Homo sapiens: one gene and its partners. The protein of the gene in region 2 purifies or fractionates together with the protein of the main gene of each other region. This does not show direct contact. Each region holds a gene or a part of one and is shown on either strand. Other genes may lie near its edges. The genes, in order: ARHGAP40, HS3ST3B1 and ATL3.

Region 1 (2,399 bases), on a different chromosome or scaffold from region 2:
CTGAGGTTCTGGTAAAGTCTGAGGATCATTACTCTAGAGAATGCAAAGGGAAACAGCGGCCCATCCTTGGTTCCCACAGAGCCAGGGAACTCCCAGAGCTGGATATGTGTTTGCAGAATTCCTTAAGGACTCCTTGGCCCCTAGGCCAGGGATGAAGTCCATCCCAGCTAGGGTGTCCCAGAGGCGTCGGTTTCACTGGTGCTACTGTGAACCTTCACACTAAACAAATCTTCTGCATCTCTCTGCAAGCCTGAGGCCAGCTCTAGGCAAAATCCAAACTCCAGGATAGGCTCCTAAGACTTGCACAGGCTAACCTTTAACCTTACAGCAGGACTCCACCTGGTTTCATTGAAGACAGAGACCTGAAGGGAGGGCTCATCTGCAGGCCTACTCTGGCCTCCCACAGAAGGGCCCAGTGAGCCTTTGAGGTCGAAGAACTCCCAGGGACCCGGGCTCTGTTCCTGTTTCCCACAGTGGAACTTACTGATATTCCCTCCAACTTCATAGAGGAGGATGTTGGCTGACTCCATGGACCTATGGCTGTAAAACAGAGAGAGAGAAAAAAAAAACTACTGCCTTTTTCTTCTGGAAACATCAAGACCAACAACTGTGCATGGCCCCCAGCCCTGGAAAGGGCAGTCCTCACTGATTTTTGGTCCTGCTGGGGAGAAGCAGCATAAGGACCCTCCTGAGAGAGCTGGAGCCAGTGACAGAGTCCAGCACCCAGGGGCTGGGGAGAGGTAGCTGGAGGGCACGTGGTGAGGCTCAGCCAGGGGTGCACCCCGCTGCGAGGCCCCTTTCTTCTGGGCATCAGAATGGAGACTGCGAAGGCAAGGGAATGAGTGGTGACAGATGGGGACAGGAGCCTGCTGTGAGGGGAAGATTTTGAGTCAAGATGGATTATGGACATTGTATGATTACATATGATAATGATGCCTATCATGTAAGAATCACAATTATTATATGATAATTATGGGTATCCTGAGTTCAATTCCATGGCCTCTTTTCTGCCATGTGGCCTAAGGCAAGTCCCTTCTCTTTTCTGAGTCTTAGTGCTCCCATCTGTTCAAGGAGGAGCTGGATCAGATACTTGCTGAAGATGACAGTCTGAGGGTCCCTTGTGCCAATGCCAACAAGGAAGCTCTTGAGGTCTCAGGCTGTTTCCTGTACCCTAGGAATGATGGCTGCACATCAGCCCCCGACCTTCTTCCAGATCCTTGGCCAGGCTCTGCTCCTTGCTGCAGGACCTTTACTGTGCAGTTTTCTGTGCCTGGAAGCCTCACCTCGCTCCCAGATGACACCAGCTTCCTTGGCTTCCAGACACATTGTTCCCTGCATTTCTTATGAAACCTAATACAGTTTGTAACTTGATCTTTGATTCGTGACTATCTGCTTTATATCCAGGTCTTCCTCAGGACTGTGAGCTCTTAAGAGCAGGGCCTCTGTCTGTTCTTTTCATGGCTAGTCTATAATTCTCTTAATACATGGTGGGCCAGGTGCGGTGGCTCACGCCTGTAATCCCAGCGCTTTGAGAGGCTGAGGTGGGCAGATCACTTGAGGTCAGGAGTTTGACACCAGCCTGGCTAACATAGTAAAACCCTGTCTCTACTCAAAATACAAAAAAATTATCCAGGCATGGTGGCAGGTGCATGTAATCCCAGCTACTTGGGAGACTGAGGCAGGAAAATCGCTTGAACCTGGGAGAAGGAGGTTGCAGTGAGCCAAGATCGAGCCACTGCACTCCAGCCTGGGTGACAGAGCTAGACTCCATCTCAAAACAAACAAACAAACAAACAAACAAACCAACAGAAAAACATGGTGCCTGGTGGTAGGCATTCATTAAATACCTATTAAAGTGAATGAGTGAGTGGTGGTCATCATGATTATTACTTGGAGCCAAGAAACTCTCTAAGATTGGAGAACCCATCTGACCACCCCAGAAAGGGAAGGCCAGGTCAGGCCAACAGTATGTGTAACCCCCTGGTGGCCTTCAGCTCTGGGGTGCAGAGCCCTCCCTGCAGGGAAGAGGCTCCTGCCTCCAGGAGGTGCCTCTTACTGTAGAAGGAGGCTGTCCATGTCCTCACTGTCTTCTTGACCCTTGGAACCAGGGCTGAGGTGCTCTGTGAACTGCCTCAGGACGTGGGCCACTTTGGTGCTGGGGGTGAGAGGCACCTTCAAGGGGTCCTTGATAGGCCAGACCACCTGGATCTTTGCCACCTTGGGAGTCTGCAGAGAGAGAGAGAGAAAGATCCATATACATAAGAGTCAGCTTGCCTGGAGTTCCAACGTGGATGCATAAACACGCATACATGGCACTTACGCAAATGCCCACGCTGAAAATCACAAGATACACACACACGCATACCGGACACTTGGGCACAGATCACAGACATACACAT
Region 2 (3,998 bases):
ACTTCCCCCAGCTAGCGGTTGCTGTTTCTTGGAAGACGCGTTTATCCGCCCCAGTCCCGGGTGGGTGGGTCATTTTGCCAAAGAAAATGTGGTTGGGGGTGACTTCGAGTAGACTTTCACTATTAAATAAGTGCACCTCAGTGATGGATTTGTTCCAAATTGATGTTTGACTTTTAAAAAAGCGGTGGTGAATGACAACACGAAACAATCAGTGTCACAGGTTAGCAAATCACACTGTCTCCTAAATTAAGGCAAATGTTGGCTTTATATCTATTCAGGAAAAAGGGGGAGATGGAAAGTTTTCTCAAACCTAACGTCTCCAACAAACTCATATCCAGATAAAACTTCCTACACATGACTCCCACGCACATGTTTCGACCAGGAAACTTTTGTTTACCAGACTCTCTTCCTGGTAATTTCTCCTGTCTCTTTTCCCCTCCCCAACCTACTTTCGGCAGTTTGGAAGGCTGGAGATTTTTGTTAAGGACACTTTACACTAATCTCAGTTAACCGGCAGGCCAAGCTAACCTGGCAAAGAATAAGAAGGAAAGACACACACACACACACACACACACACACACACACACACACACGACAGCGATTTCCAAACATCCTTTCTACTTAAACTTCCTAATCCCGTGCCTGTCCCAGAAGGGTCTCCGAATGAGTCCCCGGCGTGGGTTGGGGGGGGGGTTCCAGTGCCTAGTGCATCTCCTACCCTGCTCTCCCTCCTCCAACCGCCTCCCTACTCTGCAACACGTAAGCATCACGAAACCTCCTGCGAAACATCTGGATGGGGACTGGTGTCCCAACATCTGGGCAACTACCGCCAAGGCTGGCTTCTAGGGAACGAGTGCGGAAATGCGTGCGGGTGTGGGAGCGCACCACTCAGTAGGGTAGGACCTCTCCCAGCGCTAGGTCACTGCAGCATTCTTCCCACCATCTGCTCCTGTCACCAGCCCCTAACTCCGCCCCTTTGGGCCCGCCCCTTGTTCCGAAGCCAATAGCAACCCCTGACCGCCCTACACCGCCCAGAAGCCTTTCCACACCCCCTCGTCCTGGGAGCGGGTTGGCTGCTGAGCTCTCGGAGAAGCGCCTGTATTTGCATGGCGTTCGGGGTTTTTGGTAGGTAGAGCAGCCCGTCACTCTGGAAGGCCGGGACCGCCCACTCCACCTCGGTCCACAGCTCTCTTCCTGCGCAGTTCGCCTCTGCAGCCTCTGCGGGGAAGTGCCGGGGCTGCTCGAGGCTCAGTTCTTAGGACTGCAAGGAGGCAGCCCCGGCGTGCGGCGGTGCGCACAGTCTAGAGTGGCCAGGGCGCGAGAGTGCAACGTCCTCCTGGCCCCGAGCGCGTCGTCGCGCCCCGGGAGCAGACCCTCGCCCAGCAGTTACCGCCGTCCCGACTTTCCGTTCCAGTTGCAGCTCCTGCCGGGCAACATGTCAAGAGCCGCCGCCGCTACAGCTGCCGCCGCCACCTGGGGAAGAGCAGCAGCAGCAGCGGCGGCCGCGGGCACACGGGGGCAATAAACCGAGCCACCCGGGCGTCCAGCGTGCCGGGGAACCCTCTCTGCGCTCACTGCCCGGCGGGACCCACGCCATGTGCTGAGCCATGTCCCTGGCCGCGCCCGCGGGCAGCGCATGGGGCAGCGCCTGAGTGGCGGCAGATCTTGCCTCGATGTCCCCGGCCGGCTCCTACCGCAGCCGCCGCCGCCCCCGCCGCCGGTGAGGAGGAAGCTCGCGCTGCTCTTCGCCATGCTCTGCGTCTGGCTCTATATGTTCCTGTACTCGTGCGCCGGCTCCTGCGCCGCCGCGCCGGGGCTGCTGCTCCTGGGCTCTGGGTCCCGCGCCGCACACGACCCGCCAGCCCTGGCCACAGCTCCGGACGGGACGCCCCCCAGGCTGCCGTTCCGGGCGCCGCCAGCCACCCCACTGGCTTCAGGCAAGGAGATGGCCGAGGGCGCTGCGAGCCCGGAGGAGCAGAGTCCCGAGGTGCCGGACTCCCCAAGCCCCATCTCCAGCTTTTTCAGTGGGTCTGGGAGCAAGCAGCTGCCGCAGGCCATCATCATCGGCGTGAAGAAGGGCGGCACGCGGGCGCTGCTGGAGTTTCTGCGCGTGCACCCCGACGTGCGCGCCGTGGGCGCCGAGCCCCATTTCTTCGATCGCAGCTACGACAAGGGCCTCGCTTGGTACCGGTGAGTTTCCCTGCCAGGGGCAGGGTCTCCATCGTCGATTCAGACCCTGAGCTAAGGGAGACATGGCGTATGATAGGGAATTGGCAGGGTTACAGCTTCGGACCACCCGGGGTAGGGCAGGGAAACTACGGCAGATTGCGCAGCGCATCCTGTCCGGGTGCGGTGAGGGTTGCGCTCCGCTTGGTTCTCGTCACAACCCACAGAAAGTTCTCGCGGAGCACTGGTGCCCTTGAATTCATCAGGCGACCTCGCCGCAAAGAAGAAGGGCAGCGACTGAGACCGCCCTCAGCAAAGCGAGCCACCCTCTAACCATGGGGGTATCCGACTCGAATCGTATTTTATGACTCGTTTTAAATTTTTTCCTCCCGGAGCCCGAGACGCTGGGAATGTTCTGAGCCCCTTTGGTCGGTCTCCGCCCTCAAGGAACTTCTAGAGCAGCTTCTGCTTCCCAGATGGGGAGAGGGGGTGGGGGCCGCGGCGTCCCGGCGAGGCCGCAGAGTCTGTTAACTTTTTGTTACAGTCCGCCTGGTTACCGGAACCCCAAGGGTGTCAGACCCGCCTCGCTCGCGAGCCGCCTGGGCTCGGGAGGGTGAGCCGGGCGGGTGGCCCGGCGCCTCCGCCTGGCGGGCGGGCGGCGCGCGGAGCGTGGAGCTGTGCTGGTCCCTGTCGGGCAAAGGCGCGCACTGCAACCGGCTGGAGCGGCGCGAGGCTTTGAAGGCGTCCGGGCCTCCGGGCACCGCCGCCCGTTTCCGCCTCCCTGCCCTCGGTGCTGGGATAGGGAAAGCAAGGACGCGTGTCTCCGCGGGGCTTTTACACGTCCGGAGCAAAGAATATTCGGGGCCCATTGATTGAGAAATGAGGGTTGCTTCGAGGTCGCGGCTTCCGGAAATTCTGTTCTCGAGTCGGGTTGCGGGTCAGGTTCCAAAGGGACAGTGGCCCCGGGGTCACAATCACTACCTCTGCCCACTGCTTTCCGCAGCTGCTGGTCTTTGGGGTGAGCTGTTGGGTTGCCCGAGCTTCGGGTAAGGCGCGAGTGGGCAGGAGGTCTAGATTTCGGCCTCCGATAACTGTCTTCGACTAGGGGCCCAGGTAACGACCCCCACATTTTCGTTGGGGTCTCCACCCGTAACCCCAGCCAGCACGACATTCAGACACCCCTCCAGGCCCAATTAGCTTCACAGACGCTCAAGACTTGGGAAAACAAAAGAGGAGAAGATAACTGAACCCCTCTCCCTGTGCCCACCCCACTGTCGGGACCTGGGTGGGTTGGAGAATAAAAGAGGGCTGACCCCGCGGATTAAAACGGCTCCCTTCCCAGCCTCGTCCTACCCCTTCCCCTTTGTCCTTAATGGTTTTTTATTATTGTCAGGAGTTGCCCAAGTCTCGAGGTTTAGCCAACCGTGACAGTCATCTTTCCCACCGTTCCCGGGCTGTGACCCATTCTCGGGACACTGGTGGATAAGAATGGGGTCTCTGGAGTCCGACGCCTGGATTCACGTCCTGGCTAGTCGCGTGAACCTTGGTGCTCTCATCTGTGCAGTGGGAATAATGCAGGTTCTGGGCAGGGATGGGAAGAGTGAATGCGCTGGTACGGTAAGGTGCCTCGCAGGCACGTGAGGGCCTCTCTAATCGTTAGCTATTGTCACCGATTGTATTGTTATGACTTCTACCACCACCACTCCCCCTCCTCCTGGGATGGTGATTCCAGGGCCAGGCGGCAGGCTATAACTAGCGCCCTTCCAGGTGGAACCCGCCAGAGCCCCGAGGCAGCCTAGGATTTTCTGAGATCAGACACACTTGGGCCGGGT
Region 3 (3,727 bases), on a different chromosome or scaffold from region 2:
AACCACATTATGGTACATGTCATTCATTCATTTTACAATAGTTTATTGGCCGGGTGCGGTGGCTCACGCCTGTAATCCCAGCACTTTGGGAGGCTGAGGCAGGTGGATCACAGGGTTAGGAGTTCGAGACCAGCCTGGCCAATATGGTGAAACCTTCTATCTACTAAAAATACAAAAATTAGCCGGGCATGGAGGTGCATGCCTGTGGTCCCAGCTGCTCGGGAGTCGCTTGAACCCGGGAGGCGGAGGTTGCGCTGAGCCAAGATCGCGCCACTGCACTCCAGCCTGGGCAACAGAGCGAGACTCCGTCTCAAAAAAAAAAAACAAAAAAACAATAGCTTATTGTATGTGCTGTGTGTCATTACATTGATATTGCTCATTACATTCACATTGCTCAGTACGCTTTTTTTTAAAAGACAGAGTTTCGCTCTGTTGCCCAGGCTAGAGTGCAGTGGCGCAATGTTGGCTCACAGCAACCTCTGCCTCCCGGGTTCAAGCGATTCTCCTGCTTCAGTCTCCCGAGTAGCTGGGATTACGGGTGCCTACCACCACGCCCAGCTAATTTTTTATATTTTTGGTAGAGATGGGGTTTCACCATGTTGGCCAGGGTGGTCTCGAACTCCTGACCTCAAGTGACCTGCCTGCCTCGGCCTCCCAAGGTGCTGGGATTACAGGCATGGGCCACCGAGGCTGGCCTCGCTCAGTAAACTTTTAATAGTGAAATAGATAAAACAAAAAGATCTGGTATGATGAACTTAATTGTAAAGTCCTGGAAGACTGTTGTGTTGGCTGCTAGGCTTGGCTGTATTTGATGGAGCCTCCAAATAAGTGATTTAAGCAAGGTAGACATTTATTTTTCTTTCACACAGAAGTGAACCAATATGGCAGTTCTGCTATACGAAATCTGACCTCTCTTGTTTCTCCAGCATTCCTGGGGTGTTGCCCTCATATGCCTGGCCCAAGATGATTCACTCCCACTTTTACATCTAGCCAGCAAGCAGGGGGAAAATGCCTGATCTGGAAGTTGTGTCTGTTATTTCCAGTCACTTCCCATTGTTCAGAATTTAGTCACCTGGTCATATCCTAGCTATAAATTTGGGTTGGAAATGTGTTTCTTCTGGGCAGTTGTATGCCCAGCTAAAAATCTATTATATAGCAGGAGGGAGAAATTAATATTGGGGGAACAACCAGACATCTCTGCCACAATCAAGACTTTGTTTTGTATTTCTTTGAGTGCTACACAGTACTTAACACTGTGGCTTATCCCTGAAGTCTGAATAAATTCTTCTCATTAGTTCTTTGTATGAAAGACTGAAGGTCTTTGGATCTTGGATTTACCTGCTGCTGGGGCAATAAGAACCCTAAGAGATTATTCACAGAAGTGTTTCCTTTTTAATCCAGGCAATAACAGGAAAGAAAAGTATTAGTATACATTGATTACAATGATAGCATGACATTTAACCTATATTTATAACTTGTTTTCCAATAGTCTGCAAAAACTTAAAAAGTAGGAAGAAGCCAGCCACAGTGGCTATCATCCACATTCACAGTGGCCTATCATCCCAGCATTCTGGGAGGCTGAGGTGAGAGGATCACTAGAGCCCAGGAGTTTGAGACTAATGTGGGCCACATAATGAGACCCCCATCTCTACAAAAAAATTAAAAAATTAGCCAGGCATGGTGGCACACACCTGTACTGCCAGCTACTCTGGTGGCTGAGGTGGGAGGATTGCTTGAACCCAGGAGTTTGAGGCTGCAGTAAGCTAGGATTGCACCACTGCATTCCAGCCTGTGTGCCAGAGCAAAATACTGTCTCCAAAAAAAAAAAAAGTGCGAAGAACCCTTCTGTTGCTATCTGATACTATAAATGTAAAAAGTGAGCAGCAATTCCAGTAGCTTGAAGGGGAGAGAGTCTTGCAGTCAAACTGTTTTGTCTGCTTTGCCTGCCATGATCGTGTAGCCTTCAGTGCTGGTTAGACAAAGTCATTTTGGAACCATCTTTGTGATTTTGGCCATGTCTGCCTGTCAGTACTAAGCTTTACTTACTATGTCTCCTTAAGTCTACTTTAAATGGACTTCTTGGCTGGGTACTGTGTCGCTGTGATTTTGGCCATGTCTGCCTGTCAGTACTAAGCTTTACTTAATATGTCTCCTTAAGTCGACTTTAAATTGACTTCTTGGCTGGGTACGGTGTCGCTGTAATCCCAACACTTTGGGAGGTTGAGACGAGTGGATCATTTGAGCTCAGGAGTTCAAGACGGGCCTGGGCAACATGGTGAAACACTGTCTCTCCAAAAATACAAAAATTAGCTGGGTGTGGTGATGAATGCCTGTAGTCCCAGCTACTTGGGAGGCTGAGGTGGGAGGATGACTTGGGCCGGAGAGGCAGAGGTTGCAGTGAGGCAAGATTGTGCCATTGCACTCCAGCCTGAGTTATAGAGCCAGACCTTGTCTTAAATAAATAAACAGACTTCTTAAACTTAGCATCCTTCTAAAGAATAATTTATCAAAATACAGATTTGTTGTTTTAAAGTATACATTAACATGCATAATTATTAAAATTACTATGTCCTTTTAACTACCTAAAAACATCTTTAATACCAGTGACACATACTCTTAGGGAAATAGTTCTTTATTCATTCCTTACGCCCCACTGGTAGTTTTTTGTGAACTTCCCATAAGTCCACAGCTACTAAGTGGCTCTGAATTTCTTTCTTTCTTTCTTTTTTTTTTTTTTTTTGAGATAGAGTCTTGCTCTGAAATCTAGGCTGGAGTGCAGTGGCACGGTCTTGGCTCACTGCAGCCTCCACCGTGCAGGTTCAAGTAATTCTCCTGCCTCAGCCTCTGGAGTAGCTGGGATTACAGGCACCCACCACCACGCCCGGCTAATTTTTGTATTTTTAGTAGAGATGGAGTTTCACCATGTTGGACCAGGGTGGTCTCGAACTCCTGACCTCAGGTGACACGCCTGCCTTGGCCCCCAAAGTGCTGGGATTACAGGTGTGAGCCACCATGTCTAGCCTGAATGAATTTCCTTCTTGCTTTCTTTTCACTTTTTTTTTTTGAGACGGAGTGTCACTCTTTTGCCCAGGCTGGAGTGCAGTGGTGCAATCTCAGCTCACCACAACCTCCACCTACTGGGTTCAAGCGATTCTCCTGCCTCAGCCTCCTAAGTAGCTGGGATTACAAGCACGTGCCACCACACCGGGCTAATTTTGTATTTTTAGTAGAGATGGGGTTTCTCCATGTTGGTCAGGCTGGTCTGGAACTCACAACCTCAGGTGATCTGCCCGCCTCGGCCTCCCAAAGTGCTGGGATTGCGCAGGTGAGCCAGCACGCCCGGCCCCTTGCCTTCTCTTCTCTTCTCTTCTCTTTAAGACAGTCTCTCGCTATATTGGCCAAGTTGGTCTTGAACTCCTGGCCTCAAGCAATCCTGCCATCTCAGCTTCTCTAAGTGCTAGGATTACAGGCGTGGATGCTGTGCCTGGCCTGAATTTCAAATTAATTAGTTATCTTTGTGCTTTGGTAGGGAAACTCTGGTAAGGAAAGTATAATATAGTTAGTGCTTAATTTTGAACTATAGAATTAATAGCTTCTAAAACTTTTTGAGTTATTACTAGTGATATGCAAAATACAACCACCTAAAGATCTTTTTGAGCTTATATCTAGGACCTGTTGGGCAATATGCTGAACCTTCATAAGCCTTCATTTCCTTCTTTTTTTTTTT

What was found.
Region 1: the proteins of HS3ST3B1 (region 2) and ARHGAP40 purify together in Homo sapiens (affinity purification with mass spectrometry; one large-scale study listed by BioGRID and IntAct). This does not show direct contact.
Region 3: the proteins of HS3ST3B1 (region 2) and ATL3 purify together in Homo sapiens (affinity purification with mass spectrometry; one large-scale study listed by BioGRID and IntAct). This does not show direct contact.

What each region holds. Positions count from the first base shown.
Region 1 is NC_000020.11:38,646,784-38,649,182, reverse strand, and holds part of ARHGAP40 (rho GTPase-activating protein 40), read right to left. Parts: intron 2,227-2,399; coding exon 2,057-2,226; intron 541-2,056; coding exon 485-540; intron 1-484. UniProt on the Homo sapiens protein: GTPase activator for the Rho-type GTPases by converting them to an inactive GDP-bound state.
Region 2 is NC_000017.11:14,299,883-14,303,880, forward strand, and holds the start of HS3ST3B1 (heparan sulfate glucosamine 3-O-sulfotransferase 3B1), read left to right. Parts: upstream 1-1,198; 5' UTR 1,199-1,636; coding exon 1,637-2,190; intron 2,191-3,857; exon of another isoform or gene 3,858-3,998. UniProt on the Homo sapiens protein: Sulfotransferase that utilizes 3'-phospho-5'-adenylyl sulfate (PAPS) to catalyze the transfer of a sulfo group to an N-unsubstituted glucosamine linked to a 2-O-sulfo iduronic acid unit on heparan sulfate.
Region 3 is NC_000011.10:63,661,226-63,664,952, reverse strand, and holds part of ATL3 (atlastin-3), read left to right. Parts: intron 1-3,727. UniProt on the Homo sapiens protein: Atlastin-3 (ATL3) is a membrane-anchored GTPase that mediates the GTP-dependent fusion of endoplasmic reticulum (ER) membranes, maintaining the continuous ER network. It facilitates the formation of three-way junctions where ER tubules intersect.